Regions from separate parts of the Homo sapiens genome. Here all the other regions are reported to be linked to region 1. Evidence: microRNA targets listed by miRTarBase, many of them from high-throughput screens and not tested one by one. Region 1 holds a microRNA gene; each other region holds the end of a gene's coding sequence.

Region 1 (4,389 bases):
CTGCCATGCCTGATGGAAGAATGTTGGCAGCTACTGGAAAGGTCTCACTGGTGCCAGTGGTTCTGGTGGGGTGGTTTCTGCTGCCCCCAGCACTGTCCCGAGGGCCACCCACCAGGTGGCAGCTTCTGACCAGAACCTCCCCTATTGGGGTGAGCCCTGAAGGGGGGAAGAACTTCTGCCAGCCCCAGACTTCTGTGGCAGAGCAGCAGGTACAGGACTGGGGGTCTCTGGCACCCGCACCAGCCACGTTCCCAGACCCTGCACCAGGACCCTAGGTGAGGGCCCAGGGCAAGCCCCTCTGGGATGGCCAGGCTACCTGCCCAGCCTCCAGGGTCCTGCTGCCTCCTTGCCCAAGCATTGTTTCTCTGGTTTTAAGCCCCTCCAATGGGCCTCACTGGGGGCAGGAGATCAGCCAGGGCCCCTGGTGGCCAAGCTAGTGGGAACCAGGCTCGTCTTTAGGCCCACCCTGTCACTCTCCCGTCCAAGGCCACATAGTAGGCTGAGGATGGCAAACACTGCCCCACAGACACCTACAGGTACGTATTTTTCCAGGAAGCTGCGGTTCTGGAACCTGGAGTTTGAGAGCCAGTCTTTCCTGTATAGACAGGTAGGCTCTGTTCTGGGGCCGTCCCCAGGGGGTGGGGCTGAGGGTGGGCAGGCCCCTGTGCAGTCTTGGCTCTGGGTCGTGGGCGGCTCTGGGTCACAGGTACGGAGGATGACGGCTGTGCTGGTGGGTCACGGGCGGCTCTGGGTCACAGGTACGGAGGATGACGGCTGTGCTGGTGGGTCACGGGCGGCTCTGGGTCACAGGTGGCTCTGGGTCACAGGTACGGAGGATGACGGCTGTGCTGGTGGCCGTGGGGCTGGGGGCTTTGGCACCTGCCCAGGTGAAGACGATTCTGGAGAGCCAAGATCCCCTGGGCAAGCACCAGACACGTGTAGCCCCAGCCCACGGCTTATTCCTCAAGTCAGTGCTGTACGGGAACCTCGGTAAGAAAAACAGGCACGAGAAGCTCCTGTCATGTGCCCAGTGACTACTGTGGCCGAGGCATGGGGTGGGGGGCCAGGGGCCACTGACGGCAGCAACTGGGGGTGAAGCAGCCCCCCGCCCAGGGCTGCAGTCCCTCAGGCCAGCCCGTAGCCCGTCCTGGGCTGGCCCACTCCCTGGTCATGGGAGTGGTCTCAGCGGTGGGGAGGGTGCTGGGCCGGTCTTGCCCCAGGCTGACGCAGGGTCTGGTCCGTCCACAGGTGCTGCCTCCTGCACCCTGCAGGGGCCACAGTTCGGGAGCCACGGATGACCCTGGACACTCAAGCCAAAGTTAGGCCACACCAGGCCCAACCCTGTGCTGGTCAAGCCAGGGCAGTCACAGCTGCTTGGGGCCCACAGCACTGCTGCCTGGTCTCCACAGTAGCCTCCCTGCCCGGGTCCCAGCACCCTGGATGCCCGTCTCTGTCCCAGGCGGGATGGGGCACAGTGCAGGACACAGCCATGTACACCAAGAAGAGAGTACCAAGTAGTCTTTTGTTCAGCTTTTACTGGAAACTGCTGTCTAGGACCACCTGCCCTAACCAGGAATAAAGGCAAGACAGCCTGGAGACCAGTTTGTTTCTTCAGCTGCAAACAGCTGCCTGGGCAGGCAGGTGACACAAGGCCTCTGTCCCCAGGGATGGGACCTGCAGGGTCTGTTCACCCAGGGCACCCACAGTCCTGAAGTGCAGGCCCAGGGTCTGTCCAGCTGGGAGAGGGCAGAGGTGGCGGCTGGGTGAGTTGCCGGCCTCAGCTGGGGGCCTGGGGGAGGCCCTTCTTCAGCAGAGATGTGAGGAAGCTCCCCAGCTCCTCGTCCTAGGGCAGAGGCAAAAGCATTGTGGGTGGTGCAGGACAGGGAGGAATGTTGATACCTGTGTTGACCGCGGTGGGGTGGGGGTCACCCCTTACCTGGTAGGTCCAGGAGACCAGCAGCACCTTGGTGCCTGGGTCCTCAGAAGGGGCGGCGGCCTGGAGGAGGACGGACTCCACAGTCACAGAGCCGTCTGGGAGGTGCTGCACACAGTGGTCCTTCAGGACGCTGTGGGGAGGCTCGGTGAGACCCTGCCTGGCCTCCAGGGCCCAAGGGAGTGGGGGGGGGGCGGGGCCGGGCGCCCACCTCTTGAGGTGGCTGTAGACGCGCAATGCCGTCTCCTGCTCCTTGCGTGTGTCATGCAGGTGCACGCGGCAGGTGAAGCGCAGCTGGTGCTCAGCCAGACCCAGCTCTTTGAGGGCTTGCTCTGAGGACACCAGCCGGAAGTTCTGTGGGGCAGGGACAGGTCAGTGAGCGCAGCAGCGGCCCTCCCCCCTCCAGAGACCGTCCTGGCACTCACGCTGTCCTTCATGATCAGGGTGCCGTGCAGGAGCCGAGGCTTCTTGGCCTCAGGGAGCAGCCCTGCGGAGGAGGTGGCAGGAGCCATCAATGTGAGGGCCGCTCCCAGCCGCCTGCCCCGAGCACCCTGCCCTGCCCTGCCCAGCCCGCATACCCTGCGCCATCTCCCGCTTCAGCAGCCCCAGCGAGATGCCTACGGGGATGCTGGGGCTTGTGGGCAGCGTCACCGTCTCGCCATTGGCCGGCATGTAGCAGTTGACCCCTGGACCCCGGGGGAAGAGAGAGCCTCAGCCCAGGCTGCCCGTGCTGACCCGAGGTGGGCCCCACGCCGCCCGCCCGGCTGCCTACGGAGCTCCTGCTCGATCTTCTGCTTCAGGAACTCCATCTTCTTGGCCTCGCCATGCACCAGCAGCACGCTCTCCGGCTCTGCCTGGCCCACCAGCTGCATGATGCCCTTGGCGTCCGCGTGTGCGCTGAATGACATGTACTCCACCTGCATCTTGACCTCCAGCTACAGAGGCCACGGGGCGTGGACAGTGGTTACCACCAGGAGGTGCCCCTCGGCCCTGCCAGCCCAGTGCGGGGTCGAGACTCACCACCTGCCGCCCCTCCATCTCGAGCTTCCGCTGCCCGCTGAGGATCTTGTGGCCGACGGTGCCCTGCACGCAGTAGCCGGGCATGATGACCTGGGGGCAGGCACAGAGCTCACAGCCAGGGAACTCCAGCCTTGGCACCTCAAGGCCTTGCCCGGGATGCCCCCGCCTGAACCCCTGGAAGCTGTTTCCACCTGCCAGCGGCGCCCGACCAAGCCTAGCTGCAGACTCCAAAGGGCTCAGGTTTTGGCACAAGACTGTCCAGGGCTGGGCTGGGGCTGTTCTGCCCGAGGTGGACAAGCTGTGTCACAGAGACTGAGCAGCTCCAGGCGGACATCGCCCCCGTTCCCCAGCAGCAGCAGCCACGTCCCTTGGCCAGCACGAGGCCAAGCCAGTGAGAGCTCAGAGACAGCATGGGTGGAAGGACAACCCGTCGGCCTCCAGCTTCCAGATTCCCACACCTCACCATGCCCTCACCATGTTCTTTTCGTTTCCGGCCCATTTCCGGAAGATCTGCAGGGACTGCCCAGCGTGCAGCATTCCTGGCGTGGCAAACACAACCTACAGGACACACAGGGCCAGGTGGGGGGTCAGGGCAGCAGATGCCCCCACCCCCACTGCAGGCCCAAGCCCAGACACCTGCGGAAGACAGGAGACCGACGGGTGTGGATGTGCTGGCCGGCCCTGCCGCGGGCCTCACCATCGGTCCTGGGTTGTCAGCAAAAGCCCGGTCGAAGGCCTTGATGTGCTTGAACTCAAACATGTTCCTCTGCACGAAAGTCTTGCGGATCTTCTGGTTGGTCCAGGGGATGAACAGCTTGTAGTAGTGGTTGGCCTTCTCGGTCAGCCCCGTGGAGAAGTAGATGGGCACCTTCAGGTTCATGCGCTCCCTGGGGACCACCGGCCCAGTCAGCACAGTGGCCACAGGGGAGAATGCTGCAGGGCAGGACTCGGCCGGGTCACCCCCAACACCCGTGTCTGCACAGCCCACGCACGGGCCAGGTTGAGTCCAGTCGCGACCACTTGTCCCATTAAGCCCTGCAGCAGCCGGGCTCAGCGGAGAACCAGGAACCCCTACAAGAGCCGCACACGGTGGCGCTGACGGGATGTCACAGGCTTCCTGGGGTCACACAGCACACGAGCGGCCCCCCAGGACAGCAGCAAGCAGGGCCAAGATGCCACCGCTACGCTGGACAGGGCTGCCCACCAACTGGACTGTGTTCAGGCCGGGCCAGGGGCTCCTTAAAGAGCCGTCCTGGCGGCACCTACCAGAAGGTCTCCAGGAGGATGCAGAGCTCCTGGGCGCGGCCCAGCGCGAACACAGGTATCAGCACCTGAGGGGGACACAAGGCAGGAGCCCTGGGCACATGGCCCCTCGACACAGCAGGCAGCGTCCAGTGAGGGCACGGCCAGGTGCCCAAGAGCTGCGGCCTCATAGG
Region 2 (3,000 bases), not on the chromosome of region 1:
TCCACCTGTCTCGGCCTCCCAAAGTGCTGGGATTACAGGCATGAGCCACCACGCCTAGCCTGAAAAAATTATTTTAAATACTGATTTACTTGCAAATAAGGAATTAAAGTGTATGGTCACTTCTTAATTGAATAATTTTTTTTTTCTTAAATAGATCTCCTTTCTGTGAAGAAATAATCTGTTGCCGTGGAGACCAAGTGCGACTGGCAGTTCGTGTCCGAGTATTTACTTACCCTGAATCTGCATGTGCTGTTTGGATCATGTTTGCTTGTAAATATCGCTCGGTATTATAGGGCCAATATTTATATAAGATTTATACCTGTGTTTAATTGGAATTTTACACATTGTACATTACTTAGCTATTTAGAGGTTTGTTATTTTAAAATCACAATCTGGCTTGAATGGCATACTTCAATTTTGTATATACTTGACTGGTAATGTTTAAAAAAAATCATGCATTCCTTTAAAAATTAAGGCTGAAAAACTTGTATAAATCTCCCTGGAATTTAGTATAAATTAAGTGTATATTCTATTTTAATAAATGCTACTTTGTTTACAGTTATCAGTAGTTTAAATATTAATATAAAATGCATTCAGTTTTCTTTACACAAACAGGTAATCAAAGAGATGTTTGTCTAAGGGTTTGAGCCCTAGACAAATCAGTATGATCATTACTTTTCACAGGTTAATGGAATTATTTTATACAGATTAGGAGAAATTAACCTCATGACAGATTTATTTATTGCATTGGTGAAAATAAATGTTAATGAATTACCACTTTTGTGGTTTATTCGTGGTCCTTGGGATATTTGAGACTGTCCAGAAATTTATGGTTGGACCTTGAAGCAAGAGTAGGAAAAAACTAATACCAGAAAAGCATAAATATTAATAACCTCATATGAAAGTACATGAATCATTTAGAAATATTTATCACTGTGATTTGTTGTAAAAATGAATTGGGTATTTTAGAAAAACTTTATTATACCTCTTTGTTATGATACTGATAAATTGTGATCTTGCAGTCGATCACTGATTTTCTGTGGTCAGAGGATTCATTATTAGCCTCTTCATGGATTCTATCTTCTGAAACCCTTTTTTCTTTCATTGTGATAAAAAAATCAGCATATATGTGACTAATCTAAATAAGAGATTGATTGTGTGAGACCACTGAAAACAAGCATATGTGAGTGATTCCATACTGATTTTTGTTTTAAAATTGAGCACGTTTTAAAAATTTTGTAAGGCTCGGCGTAGTGGTTTATGCCTGTAATCCCAGCACTTTGGGAGGCCGAGGTGGGTGGATCACTTGAGGTCAGGAGTTCGTGACCAGCCTGGGCAACATGGTGAAACCCTGTCTCTACTAAAAATACGAAAATTAGGCCGGGTGCGGTGGCTCACACCTGTAATCCCAGCTACTCAGGAGGCTGAGGCAGGAGAATCGCTTGAACCTGGGAGGCAGAGGTTGCAGTGAGGTGAGATCGCGCCACTGCACTCCAGCATGGGAGGCAGAGCGAGACTGCATCTCAGAAAAAAAAAAAAGGGCCAGGCATGGTGGCTCACACCTGTAATGCCAGCACTTTGGGAGGCTGATGTGGGTGGATCACGAGGTCAGGGGTTCAAGACCAGCCTGGCCAACACAGTGAAACCCTGTCTCTACTAAAGATACAAAAATTAGCTGGGCATGGTGGCATGTGCCTGTAGTCTAGCTACTCAGGAGACTGAGGCAGGAGAATCGCTTGAACCTGGGAGGCGGAGGTTGTGATGAGCCAAGATCATGCCACTGTACTCCAGCGTGGGCAACAGAGCAATACTCCATCTCAAAAAAAATGTTTTTTATAAGTTAATTTTAAGTAGCTAGGCATGGTGTCACACACCCATAATCCAAGCTACTCGGGAGTCTGAGGCGGAAGGATCGCTTGAGTCCACAGAGGTGGTGAGCTAAGATCGCGTCACTGCATTCCAGCCTGGGTGACAGAGCAAGACTCTGTCTCAAAAAAAAAAAAAAAAAAAAAAAAGAAAGTGTGAAACCTGATTCCTCAACTTATTTTAAAATTTTATATATTAAAAAAAGTGTTAAGTGAACAAAAGTAAACTTTAAAAAGAGTAGCAATTCAACTTTTTGCAAGAAGCTGCATAATACATGATATGAGGGGTTTGATTGCCCATTTAGCACTTCTGTGCATAGTTCTTTTCATTTTTTTTAAGTTTTTTATTTTTTCAAAGAATCTTTGTTCACTCTGATATGTGTAGTTCTTAATTTAGTTGCTTTATCCATTGGTCTTAAGAAAGTAACTCTATACCAGTTGGCTATCCAAGTTATTAATTCTTTTAATCACTTTAATTCACCCCTACAAATAAAATGATTTCGTTTTTCGAAAATTAAAATCTAAAAGTGTCTTAAAATTTACTTTTTGGGCCAGGTGTGATGGCTCACACCTATAATCCCAGCACTTTTGGAGGCTGCGGCCAGAGGATGGCCCAAGAAGTAGCTCAAGACCAGCCTGGGAGCATAGAGAGACCCCCCCCTATTTCTCTAAAAGAATAAATCTACTTTGTTTTATTTTTATGTATAATAAATATTCAATTTGTTTAAAAAGTCTGAAATATTATGATCCCTCTTCTACAATTTTCATCAAAAATGGTAATCAGATGTTTCTTGTGAGACTGACATGACTGTAGAAAATTAGCAAAATAATAATTGAAGCTTTTTTTAAAGCATAGTGGTTCACACCTATAATTCCAGTACTCTGGGAGGCTGAGGCAGGAGAATCTCTTGGGTTCAGGAGTTTAAGACCAGCCTGGGCAACATAGCAAGAACCCCTCTCTACAAAAAATGTAAAAAATTAGCAGGGCGTGATCGTGCACACCTGTGGTCCCAGCTGCTTGGGAGGCTGAGGTGGGTGAATCACTTGAGCCCAAAAGATTGTGCCACTGCACTCCAGCCTGGGTGACAGAGCAAGACCCTATCTCAAAGAAAAAAAAAACTTTTTAAAAAAGTTA
Region 3 (3,000 bases), not on the chromosome of region 1:
AACTTGATCCGCATGGCCGTGGCAGGACTGGTCCTCGTGGCTCTCTTGGCCATACTGGTTGAAAATTGGCACAGCCATACGGCACTGAACAAGGAAGCCTCGGCAGATGTGGCTGAACCGAGCTGGAGCCAACAGATGTGTCAGCCAGGATTGACCTTTGCACGAACACCAAGTGTCTGCAAGTAAACACCTGGAGGTGAAGGCAGAGAGGAGCCAGGACTGTGGAGTCCGACAAAGCTACTTGAAGGACACAAGAGAGAAAAGCTCACTAAGAAGCTTGAATCTACTTTTTTTTTTTTTTGAGACAGAGTCTGGCTCTGTCACCCAGGCTGGAGTGCAGTGGAGCAATCTCGGCTCATTGAACCTCTTGGGTTCAAGTGATTCTTGTGCCTCAGCCTCCCAAGTAGCTGGAATTACAGGCACATACCACTGCACCCAGCTAATTTTTGTATTTTTAGTAGAGATGGGGTTTCACTGTGTTGGCCAGGCTGGTCTCGAACTCCTGACCTCAGGTGATCCACCCACCTTGGCCTCCCAAAGTGCTGAGATTATAGGCATGAGCCACCACGCCTGGCCAGATGCATGTTCAAACCAATCAAATGGTGTTTTCTTATGCAGGACTGATCGATTTGCACCCACCTTTCTGCACATAAGTTATGGTTTTCCATCTTATCTGTCTTCTGATTTTTTATATCCTGTTTAATTTCTTCCTTCATTGTTCTTCTCTTTTTTTATTTATTTTATTTATTTTTATTTTTATTTTTATTTGAGACAGAGTCTCACTCTGTTGCCCAGGCTGGAGTGCAGTGGCACGATCTCGGCTCACTGCAACCTCTGCCTCCTGGGTTCAAGTGATTCTCCTGCCTCGGCCTCCCAAGTAGCTGGGATTGCAGGCTCCCACCATCACGCCCAGCTACTTTTACAGTATTTTTAGTAGAGACGGGGTTTCATCACATTGGCCAAGCTGGTCTCAAACTTCTGACCTCGTGATCTGCCCGCCTCGGCCTCCCAAAGTGCTGGGATTACAGATGTGAGCCACTGCGCCCAGCCTTCTTTTTATATTTTTAAATGTGTCTTCCCCAAATATAAATGGTTGGTAAGCATGCCAAATATATTCAATAACCCCCCTCCTTTATTTTTTTTTGTTGAAGTGAGGCTCTCCCTATGTTGCCTAAGCTGGTCTTGAACTCCTGGTCTCAAGCAATCCTCCTACCTCAGCCTCCTGCTGTGTTCATCTACAAATTGATAAGAGTGAAAGTCATAATCCTACAGGAGGATTACCCTATTTATTTCACAAACCCTATTTCTACCGGATTTTCATACAAGGAATACAGGCATGTGTTTCACCTCATTAATTTATTTTTTCACTTAGTTTTGATGATATTCACATATATTATCAAGTGTGCAAACATTAAATTCTTGTGTACAAAACTCAAATGGTCTTCCAAATAATTCCCCATTCTTTTTTCTTATAAACTTTCACAGCTTTACCCTTGACAGACTTTACTCAAGGAAATCTAAGTTGGTCATATGTGGCTCTTTCACTGATTGCTATTTACTTCATTGTCCAGTAGCTTATGTATGAAAATATAATTATAAAATGTAAGGGTCCTACTTCCAGTGAAACTGAAGGGACTTAGGCCCACTTTTATCCTTTACTGAGAGCTTATCTCTACTTGATAAAATTTCTACTGTATTCTTGGCTTAACTCAGGTCCTGTGATTAAAAAAAAAATGCAAAGTATTTCTAACTTTCTTTATTGACTGCTTTTCACACTTTATACAAGTTCTGGCCCATATCTTCAGTTTGTTCTGATTTTTTTCACCAGGTGTGGTGGCAGGTGCCTGTAGTCCCAGCTACTCCAGGGGCTGAGGCAGGAGAATGGCGTGAACCTGGGAGGCGGGGCTTGCAATGAGCTGAGATCACGCCACTACACTCCAGCCTGGGCCACAGAGCGAGACTCCGTCTCAAAAGTAAACAAACAAATAAATAATAAATAAATAAATAAAGGGAAAGTGCCACAATTTTGGATGAAGGGGGTTGAGGGACTTTACGTCAGGTCCAGGACTTGGATTACAGAGACACAATGGGGCTAGATTCCCAGAGATGGATAAGATTAAACTCATATAAGTCGTTTTGCTGACAGAAGGACCTTGTTTGGAAAAAGCGTTTTCAGAATAATAAAGTTCCTGAGCTCTTCAGAAAAGTATTTTATTGTCCTGTAACCACAGTAACAAGTAGCCACCAAAACTGATTTTTAACCCATCATCAATGACAACTCATCTCTGTGAAGATGCTCTTTTTTTTTTTTTTTTTTTTTGAGACGGGGTCTTGCTCTGTCACCCAGGCTGGGGAGCAGTGACGTGACCTCGGCTCCCTGCAACCTCTCTTTCCCGGGTTCAGCAATTCTCCTGCCTCAGCCTCCCCAGTAGCTGGGATTATAGGCACCTGCCACCACACGCAGATAATTTTTGTATTTTTAGTACAGACGGGTTTCGCCATGTTGGCCAAGCTGGTCACAAACTTCTGACCTCAGGGTGATCTGCCTGCCTCAGCCTCTCAAAGTGCTGGGATTACAGGAGTGAGCCACAAAGCCCGGCCACTCCATACGTTTTATATTGTTATGTTACCATCAGTCAGGCAGCTCCTTGCTTCTAAAAGTCATCCAATCAGACTCATTTCAGTAAACACCCAAGCATGAGTGACAACCAATCAAAGTAATATCTTCCCAATGACCACACTTTTCCAGATGACGTCAAGCCACAGAAGGCCCTGAAAATCCAACAATCTCTGAAGTATACATTTCCCAGGCTGAGCGCAGTGGCTCACACCTGAAATCCCAGCACTTTGGGAGGCTAAGGCAGGCAGATCACGAGGCCAGGAGTTCGAGACCAGCCTGGCCAACATGGCAAAACCCCGTCTCTACTAAAAATACAAAAATTAGCCAGGTGTGGTGGCACGCACCTGCATTACCAGCTACTGAGGAGGCTGAGGCAGGAG

The links. The annotated mature microRNA hsa-miR-6727-3p reads UCCUGCCACCUCCUCCGCAG and lies in region 1 at 2,421-2,440, opposite strand. An mRNA with a match to its seed (bases 2 to 7 or 8) in the 3' UTR can be bound and repressed. Matches are read on the target gene's strand: a 7mer-m8 pairs with bases 2 to 8, a 7mer-A1 pairs with bases 2 to 7 and ends in A, and an 8mer does both.
Region 2: the mRNA of CEP76 is a reported target of hsa-miR-6727-3p. The part of its 3' UTR that is shown has no 7-base or 8-base seed match.
Region 3: miRTarBase lists FCAR as a target of hsa-miR-6727-3p. The part of its 3' UTR that is shown has no 7-base or 8-base seed match.

The regions. Positions count from the first base shown.
Region 1 is chr1:1,310,082-1,314,470 of GRCh38, forward strand. MIR6727 (microRNA 6727) reads right to left here and starts at 2,485; the gene lies at 2,421-2,485. PUSL1 (pseudouridine synthase like 1) reads left to right here. Exons shown (of 8, transcript NM_153339.3): 6 at 553-607; 7 at 828-990; 8 at 1,249-1,596. The coding sequence ends at 1,298. It overlaps INTS11 (integrator complex subunit 11), which reads right to left. Exons shown (of 17, transcript NM_017871.6): 8 at 4,220-4,284; 9 at 3,651-3,840; 10 at 3,428-3,511; 11 at 2,954-3,043; 12 at 2,706-2,868; 13 at 2,512-2,619; 14 at 2,359-2,420; 15 at 2,145-2,287; 16 at 1,937-2,066; 17 at 1,519-1,843. The coding sequence ends at 1,778.
Region 2 is chr18:12,670,658-12,673,657 of GRCh38, reverse strand. CEP76 (centrosomal protein 76) reads left to right here. Exons shown (of 12, transcript NM_024899.4): 12 at 155-1,033. The coding sequence ends at 293. It also overlaps a transcript of PSMG2 not described here. Among named protein-coding and RNA genes, the nearest start is that of SPIRE1, 14 kb to the right of the region's middle.
Region 3 is chr19:54,889,678-54,892,677 of GRCh38, forward strand. FCAR (Fc alpha receptor) reads left to right here. Exons shown (of 5, transcript NM_002000.4): 5 at 1-1,743. The coding sequence ends at 186. Among named protein-coding and RNA genes, the nearest start is that of NCR1, 15 kb to the right of the region's middle. RefSeq lists an enhancer at 2,962-3,000.